Linked DNA regions of Homo sapiens: regions 1 and 2 are each linked to region 3. A link means that fine-mapping ties the variant in region 3 to the expression of a gene that starts in the linked region. Tissue or cell type: esophagus muscle. Region 3 holds a variant in brackets; each other region holds the start of a gene. All regions are shown on one strand. Distances are from middle to middle.

What was found. PIP is the estimated chance that this variant, and not a neighbour inherited with it, causes the effect.
Region 1: ZCCHC12 starts here. The variant in region 3 is fine-mapped to the expression of ZCCHC12 in esophagus muscle (GTEx, PIP 0.93).
Region 2: it holds the start of IL13RA1, and the variant in region 3 is fine-mapped to the expression of IL13RA1 in esophagus muscle (GTEx, PIP 0.99). The same link has a PIP of 0.9 or more in gastroesophageal junction.

The regions. Positions count from the first base shown.
Region 1 is chrX:118,822,197-118,824,803 of GRCh38, forward strand. ZCCHC12 (zinc finger CCHC-type containing 12) reads left to right here and starts at 1,628. Exons shown (of 4, transcript NM_173798.4): 1 at 1,628-1,809; 2 at 2,143-2,194; 3 at 2,393-2,517.
Region 2 is chrX:118,726,042-118,728,648 of GRCh38, forward strand. It overlaps IL13RA1 (interleukin 13 receptor subunit alpha 1), which reads left to right and starts at 1,565. Exons shown (of 11, transcript NM_001560.3): 1 at 1,565-1,685. The coding sequence starts at 1,598. RefSeq lists a silencer at 1,174-1,603.
Region 3 is chrX:118,794,778-118,797,277 of GRCh38, forward strand. It overlaps a transcript of IL13RA1 not described here. Among named protein-coding and RNA genes, the nearest start is that of ZCCHC12, 28 kb to the right of the region's middle. The variant A/G (reference allele first, on the strand shown) is at 1,126.

The DNA of each region.
Region 1 (2,607 bases), 27 kb after region 3:
TTGTTTATAAACCACCCAGTCTATGGTATTTTGCCATAGCACCCCAAACAGACTAAAACAGCACTGTAACAAATTATCACAAACTTGGCTTAAAACAAGAGAAGTTTAATTTCTCACAGTTCTAGAAGCCAGAAGCTTAACATCTGTTTCTCTGGGCTGAATTCAAGGTGTCAGTAGGACTGTGCTTTATTCCTTGCCTCTTCCAGTTTCTGGTGGCTGCTAGCATTCCTCTGCTTATGGCCACATCACTAATCTCTGGTCATTGCCTTCTCTTCTTGGTGCACCAACTCTCCCTCTTTTATAAGGGCACTTGTGGTTTAGATTTCAGCCTGCCTGGAAAATTAAGTCAAAAAGCCTTAACTTAATCACACCTGCAAAGACCATTTTACTTTATAAGGTAACATTTACAGGTTTCAGGGATTAGGACTTGATACATTTGGGTGGCCATTATTTAGCTTCATACAGAGTCCGAAATCTTTGCATACAATTTCAGGAAGATCATGGATTCCAGGTAGGCACATCTGCTCTGGAGTTGCATTTCACCACAGATACCTGTGGACAGATATTGGAGACAGGCTCATTTACTTATTCACAAACCTTGCTACAACTCAGAACCAACCGCAGCGCCGGTTAAAAATACTAAATACAAAACCACATCACAACCGCTAGTCCTAGTAAATCTGAATCCACCAGAGTTGGGGCCCAGAGCCTACATTTCTTTTCTTTTCCTTTTTTTTTTTTTTTTTTTTTTTTTTTTTTTTTTTTTGAGAGGGAGTCTTGTTCCCTTGCCAGGCTGAAGTGCAGCGGTGCGATCTTGGTTCACTGCAACCTCCGCCTCCCAGGTTGGAGAGATTCTCTAGCCTCAGCCTCCCAAGTAGCTGGGATTACAGGCACGCGCCATCATGCCCAGCTGATTTTTTTTTTTTTTTTTGTCTTTTTAGTAGAGACGGGGTTTCAACATGTTGGCCAGGATGGTCTCGATCTCTTGACCTCGTGAGCCGCCCGCCTCGGCCTCCCAAAGTGCTGGGATTTCAGGCGTGAGCCACCATTCCCGGCCAGAAGACTGCATTTCTAACAAGCTCCCCCAAATGACTCTGATGTCTTGCCCCCATACTTGAATGGGTATTGGTTGAGAGCCTTGTTCTCCAGCTCTCCTCTCTGTTAAATGGACATACTGCTACTTCTTTCACAGTAAAAGAGGAGATGTGTGTGAAAGCCTGTTTCCGCAATGCACGTGCTAATGCTCTTCCCGCCCCTTCCCCTCTTCCCCGTCTTTTCCCTATACCAAGGTGAAGAACTTTTATTATTCACTTGATTTTGGACCCACTTCGTGTTTAATGCACCTGGCCTAAGATGCAGAGTTGAGCCCAGGGAGAAGGGACGGGTTGGGGGAGGAAGAAAGAGTCGCAAATTCCCAGGCAGATTGGCTCCATCGGTCTAATCAAGCTGCACTTGACGCTCCGCGGGCCTGCTGCGCCCCCGCCCCCTCAGGCGAAAACTCGCCTCTGCCCAAGGCTGTGCGGGGCGTCCGCCCCCGCACTTCGCTGATTGGCCGCACTAGCCCGCTCGTCACGCTCTTTTGTCTCAGCTGGCAGAGGATAAAAGCCGCCGCGGCTGCCTTAGGAACGGCGCTGCCTCGTCTCTGCTACCCCTGGTTGGGCGGCCCTGCGAAGCAGCTCCTTCGGGCAGCCCCGGGTCGCTTAGCGGCCAAGGAGGCTTCAGTTCTTTGCCGCCTGCAAGGCGGAGACCAGAAGGCGGAATCCACAGCTGGCGACGCGGGAGCATCTGCTGTCCACCAGCGGAGCACAGGTAAAGAATGGGGGTGTGATTGCCCGGCGGGGAGAGGGGTGGGGGAAGACCCACCAGTACTGGGCGGCTCCCAGCTTGGAGAATCGGTGACTGTGAGGCAGGGGTAGGAGTACTCTCGTGGCCCGGCTGCGCTGAGGGAGGAGGTGGGGTTCACCTGGATACTGCGGGCTAGGTAGGATTTGCCTGGATTTGGGGGTGGGAGGAGAGGCGAGGAGTAGCGGGGGGAGGAATCTCGAGCTGTTTGCTTCGAACATCCTTTGCATCTCCTCATCTCTTTCTGGGAGGAATATGTGGGTGGGTGTGTCCAACTCCTATTCCCTTTCTCCGTGGCAGGCCATCAAAGCCGCATCTGAACTTGAATTCTGTGCAGCTGATTGCAGAGCTGGTAGGCCGACGGCTTCCCGGGGGAAATGTAATGCTGGAGGGTGGGGGGCTGGTCTCTGGCTTATAGTCAGGAGGGGGCAGAGAGAATTTTTCGCCTGGCAACAGCGGAGGTGGTGGGTAGCAGGATGACGGGTGAAGCTGCTTCTAACCCTTCCCTTCTCTGGCCTTCTCCGCTGTGGCGCAATCTTGAAACCTCAAGGACCCGGATCTGCGACCCCCTGTGGACAGAGGTTGACCGTACCCCGGAGAGGAGCTTTCTCACGGAGGGCACTGGTTGCAGAGGCTGGAAGTGAAATAAAGACGCGCTCTTGTTTCAGAGTTCGTGTAAGAATCTGAGAAATAACAAGGGGGACGGGCGTGGGGGGCACTTTGAGAAGGGGGTGTGGTTGAGACCAGAGACCATGAGGTTAATGA
Region 2 (2,607 bases), 69 kb before region 3:
ATAATTCCTTGTTCTTGCCCTTATCATTGCCCCTCAGACTGACTGCAGCTTTCTGTTAGCAGAGCTTGCTTTTGGTGAGTGTCTTCAACAGTTCCTGGAACAATTTCATAAATATTTATTGAGTTTGAGAGCCTTAATTCCAAGAGTGGAACCTTTGTTGTGAATAGGTTAAACAACCCTGTGCCCTTTGGGTGGGGTCTAGACTAGGTATATTATCAGCATTTTTATTGCTATACTTTTTGTAACTGTTTTCAGGTATATGCATTGGCTTAATTCGGCCAAAATACACCTCATTATGGGTCTCATCATCCACCTAGACATGATTCTTTTTTGGGAGAAGGTGATAGAATAATGTCCCCCTCCCATGATTCCATATCGTGATCCCCAACACCTGTGAATATGTTAACTTACATAGCAAAAATGACTTTTCAGTTATGATTAAATCAAGGATTTTGAGATGGGGAGATTATTATGAATTATCTGGTGGACCTAATCTAATCACAAGGGTATTTATAAGGGAAAAGGGGAAGTAAGAGGGTCAGAGTCAGATACGACAAGGGAAGCAGAGGTCTGAGTAGTTCCGCAACAAGCCAAGGAATGTGGGTAGCCTCTAGAAGCTGGAAAAGTCAAAGACACAGATTCTCCCCTAGAATATCCAGAAGGAATACATCTCTGCCCACACCTTGATTTAAGCTCAGTGTCACTTCTGACCTCCAGAACTGTAATAAAATAAAACTGTTAAATCACTAAATTTGTGGTCATTTTTGACAGCAGCAACAGGAAACGCCTAAGGACTCTTGTTTTCCTTCCTCCCAGCCTCACTGACCCTCATAGGCGCCCAAGTATCAATGTGTATTCTTCCGATTCACCTCCCATCCCTTTGAAAAATATGTAGAAAGTTTGTCGTGTGCTTTAAAAAATGCACGTATGGTATCCTCCCTCATGTTTGGAATGTTCCTTTTAAAATCAACATTATGTATTGCCAGCTTTCAAATATGCCCTTTGTCCTTTTCACAAAGCACAGTACTGCCAGTGTCCCCAACTCCACCCAGTGAAGTAGGGCTGGTATTACTAACCCTGGAGTCAGCGCTAGCAAACAAGGGCTCAGAGGTCAAGGGCTGGAAGCCAGGTCTCCAGACTCCCAGGCCAAGGCTCTTTTCCGCAGATGACTCTGTCCTGGTGTCCAGCAGGGCACAGCCCCTAGCACCTCCGAGGCCCCGCAAGTGTGCTGGCAGCGGCGACGCCGGCTCCGCCACGCGGAGGGAGGAGGCCCAGGCAGCGCCCGGAGTGGGCGGCGACGTGGTGGAAGAAGTTTTGTTCGGTCAGAGACCGGACGCGGGAGCTGCGGGTGGGCCAGGTGTCCAGCCTTGGGAGCCGTAGGAGCCGCCAGAGCCGCCAGAGCCGCCGGCGCCCCGCCCCGCCTCCTCCGGCCGCTCTCGCCGGCTCAGGTTACCTGAGGCCGGTGGGCGGGGCGGCCCTTCCCGTCTGCGCCGGCCCCCAGCCTCCAGGGCGGCGGAGCCGGGAAGTGGAAGAGGGAGCGAAGGAGGCGGGGACTGCCAAGGCTCCAGCCCGGCCGGGCTCCGAGGCGAGAGGCTGCATGGAGTGGCCGGCGCGGCTCTGCGGGCTGTGGGCGCTGCTGCTCTGCGCCGGCGGCGGGGGCGGGGGCGGGGGCGCCGCGCCTACGGGTGAGTGCGACCCTCGGGGCCCGAGGGGCGGCCGGAGGGCTGAGGGCGGTGAGGGTCACGGCTGAAAGGCCCCGGAGGTCAACGCCGGGCGGAGGGCCGAAGCTGGGGTGGGTGCTGGGGGCTGCCCTCGCGAGGCCCCGCGCTCGGCGGCTGCGGCTTCCCGCGCGGGATCTCTGGGGCCCGGTACTGGGGCCGGTTCGAGGTGGGACCCGGGAGCTGCGGGGTTTTCCCGAACTCCGGGTGCGGCGGAGGTGGCGGCAGCGAAGTAAGAGGGCTGCGACTTGTAGTGGGAAGAGCCCAGGAGGCTGGCGTCCAGGCGTGCGGGGGCGGGGGGCCCGAAACATGCCCACGGCGTCAGAGGGCCGTGGGTCAGCGCCCGGAATGTCGCCTGTGAGCCCGGGAGGAAATGAGGCGCCAGAGCCGGCGGGGACCACGACCGAAGTCCAGGCGAGCTGAGAACGCGCCGGGGCTCTTTGCCCGAGGCCGCGCCAATCCTCACTGTCTAAGGGTGGCTCTTGCGAGTGGAAGTTGAAGGGAACCTCTAAACATCTCAGTCCTTGTTGAAAAAGGACGTGACGCTCATGACCTCCTCTGGCGTCGAAGAAATCCTTTGGGAAATCCAGAATAGCATCCCGGCAGATGCTCCCCCCACCCCACTCTCTTTAATAAACCTTATATTTTAGGGTAATTGTAGATTTATGGAAAAGTTGCAAAGATACTTCAGAGAGTTGTGTATATCCCTCACCCTGTTTGGTAACTTCTAGTTAATCAACCTGGCAGTTGTGAAAAATTGGGAGTTAATGACTTCCTTAGGAGCAGCTCCTGGAAGGAATGGCCTTCTGGACGTTTTTGGTGACAATGAAAGCCCCAAACTGTATAGGTTTTATTATCACATTGACACAAACACTTATATATGCTTATT
Region 3 (2,500 bases):
AATAAATTGTAGTTATGATAATTAATGGAAATGGAGGGTTGGTCCTTTCTAATATTAAGCTAAAGTGGAATGCAATATGATTAATGATATACATGATGTGCAATGTCTAGTCACAAGGGAATATATTAGCAGGTTAGATTAGAGACCAAGAAAGTCAGTTTTTGACTGGACGCAGTGGCTCACGCCTGTAATCCCAGCACTTTGGAAGGCTGAAGCGGGCTGATCATGAGGTCAGGAGATCCAGACCATCCTGGCTAACACGGTGAAACCCCAGCTGTACTAAAAATACAAAAAAATTAGCTGGGTGTAGTGGCGGGCGACTGTGGTCCCAGCTACTCAGGAGGCTGAGGCAGGAGAATGGCGTGAACCCGGGAGGTGGAGCTTGCAGCATGCCACTGCACTCCAGCCTGGGCAACAGAGCGAGACTCCGTCTCAAAAAAAAAAAAAAAAAAAGAAAAAGAAAAAAAAATCAGTTTTCAATAGCTGTCCTTTTAAAAGCTGGTGATACAGTTTCATATTTTCTATAACTACAGCAAAATGGTTTTAATGTCATGGAGGTTTTCTTCCCCTCATTTGTGTTAAGCTCAAGGAGTGTGTCTTCAGCCAGATCACATTTGCTAATTACCCTGAATCTTTATAGAATCCAAACCCTAGGGAAAGAGTGAGGGTGCTGATCTTGGTCAAGTTATTTATCTGGAATTATCCAGGAAGATTCTGAAAATCCGTTTCTAGGTAAGTGTAGCTGTTTTGTTGTTCTTGTTATTTTAAAATAAGAAACCTCTTTTCTGATTCTTAACACATCAACAGTGAGTATTACAACAGAAAACATTTAAAATTGAGAACCCCCTTGAGGTCGTAAATTTGTGTGAGATCTATGGAAAACAAATTCCTGTAGCCACAAACATGATCACTTTGTCTCAGGGGTAGAGGAGCCAGAGTGATCTAAGCACATTTGATTTCCAGAGGAATTTATCATTTCCTTGTTTCCATGAACTCTTGCTCTTTTGAAGGTGTAACTTATGCTCACATGAATAGCACATTATGCTACTAACTTATTAGTAGTTTTAAAAGAAAGCAAGAGGACAAGAACATTTATTTCAGAGACTCTGTTTTCTTTTAAACCCT[A/G]ACGGTTGAGTCAAACAAAGTCTTTTTTGTAAATACTGTAGCTAAATCTTGGCATGCTTTTACTTTAAGCAAGGGAGGAGTTTTACTGACATTTGGATGTGCTAGATATTTTTGACATCAATCCCCAAGATGATTTCTTCTTGAAGGTTCTCTGGCTTTTTACTATCTTTCCTAACGGTCACATTTTTAGTTTACCATTAGCAACAGGAAAATATTTAACTGCTGGTTTTCAGCATTTATTGGGTAGACCATTATAAAAAGAAAATTAATAGTTTCTGAGTGGCTCCTATGTGCCGAGTTACATGTGTGATTTCACATAATCTGTATGCTGGTCCCATGAGTTAGGTTGTGTTGTTAACGTCATTTTACAGATGAAGAAACTGAGACATAGAGCGATTGAGCTGTGTATGCAAGATCACATAGCTAGTAAGAGACTAAGACAAAATTGGGAAGCAAGTCAGCCTGACTTTAAAGCCTGTATAATATAGTCAGTGGTATATTTACTTGTCCCCAAAAGGCAGTTACCTAAAGAAAAAAACATCTTATTTCGCATTTTGCCAAATTGCTTATCAACTGGAAGATTTCTGATTTTAAATCATTAATTGCAAAGTGAGCATTTTATAGCATCTTTTTTGTTTTGTTTTGTTTTTTTGAGACGGGATTTTGCTCGTGTTGCCCAGGCTGGAGTGCAATGGCACAATCTCAGTTCACCACAACCTCTGCCTCCCGGGTTCAAGGGATTCTCCTGCCTCAGCCCCCCAAGTAGCTGAGACTAGGTGACCGCCACCACGCCCGGCTAATGTTTGTATTTTTAGTAGAGATGGGGTTTCTCCATGTTGGTCAGGCTGGTCTCGAACTCCCGGCCTCAGGTGATCCGCCCGCCTCGGCCTCCCAAAGTGCTGGGATTACAGGCGTGAGCCACCGTGCCTGGCCTATAGTGTCTTTTAAGAGATTCATTTGTGCATTCATTTATCTACGAGCTAGACAATGTGTTATGTAATAGGAATTTAGAAGTCAATAAGATTTGGCTTAGTATCAGGTGGTTAGTTAAGGGAAGGCTACTTTGTATAGGGGAAAGAAACCTGGATTATCATTTAGGAGTTCCAAATGAATGTGGGCAGATAACTTTCTCTGTCTGGGTCTGTTTCCCTATCTGTAAAATGAAGGTGTTAGACAGTGATGTATAATCCCATCCATGACTCCTAATGGTGACCATAGGTTGTGGAGTTCATTTGGAAGTGAGAATCTTTGCTATAAACACTAGCTCTAGGCATCAGCGTTCTCATCTGTAAAATGAGGAGGTTGGACTAGATTAGCTCTATTAATTTTGACATCCAATAAAGGTTAAGATGATTTTTGTTTTACAAATCAAGAA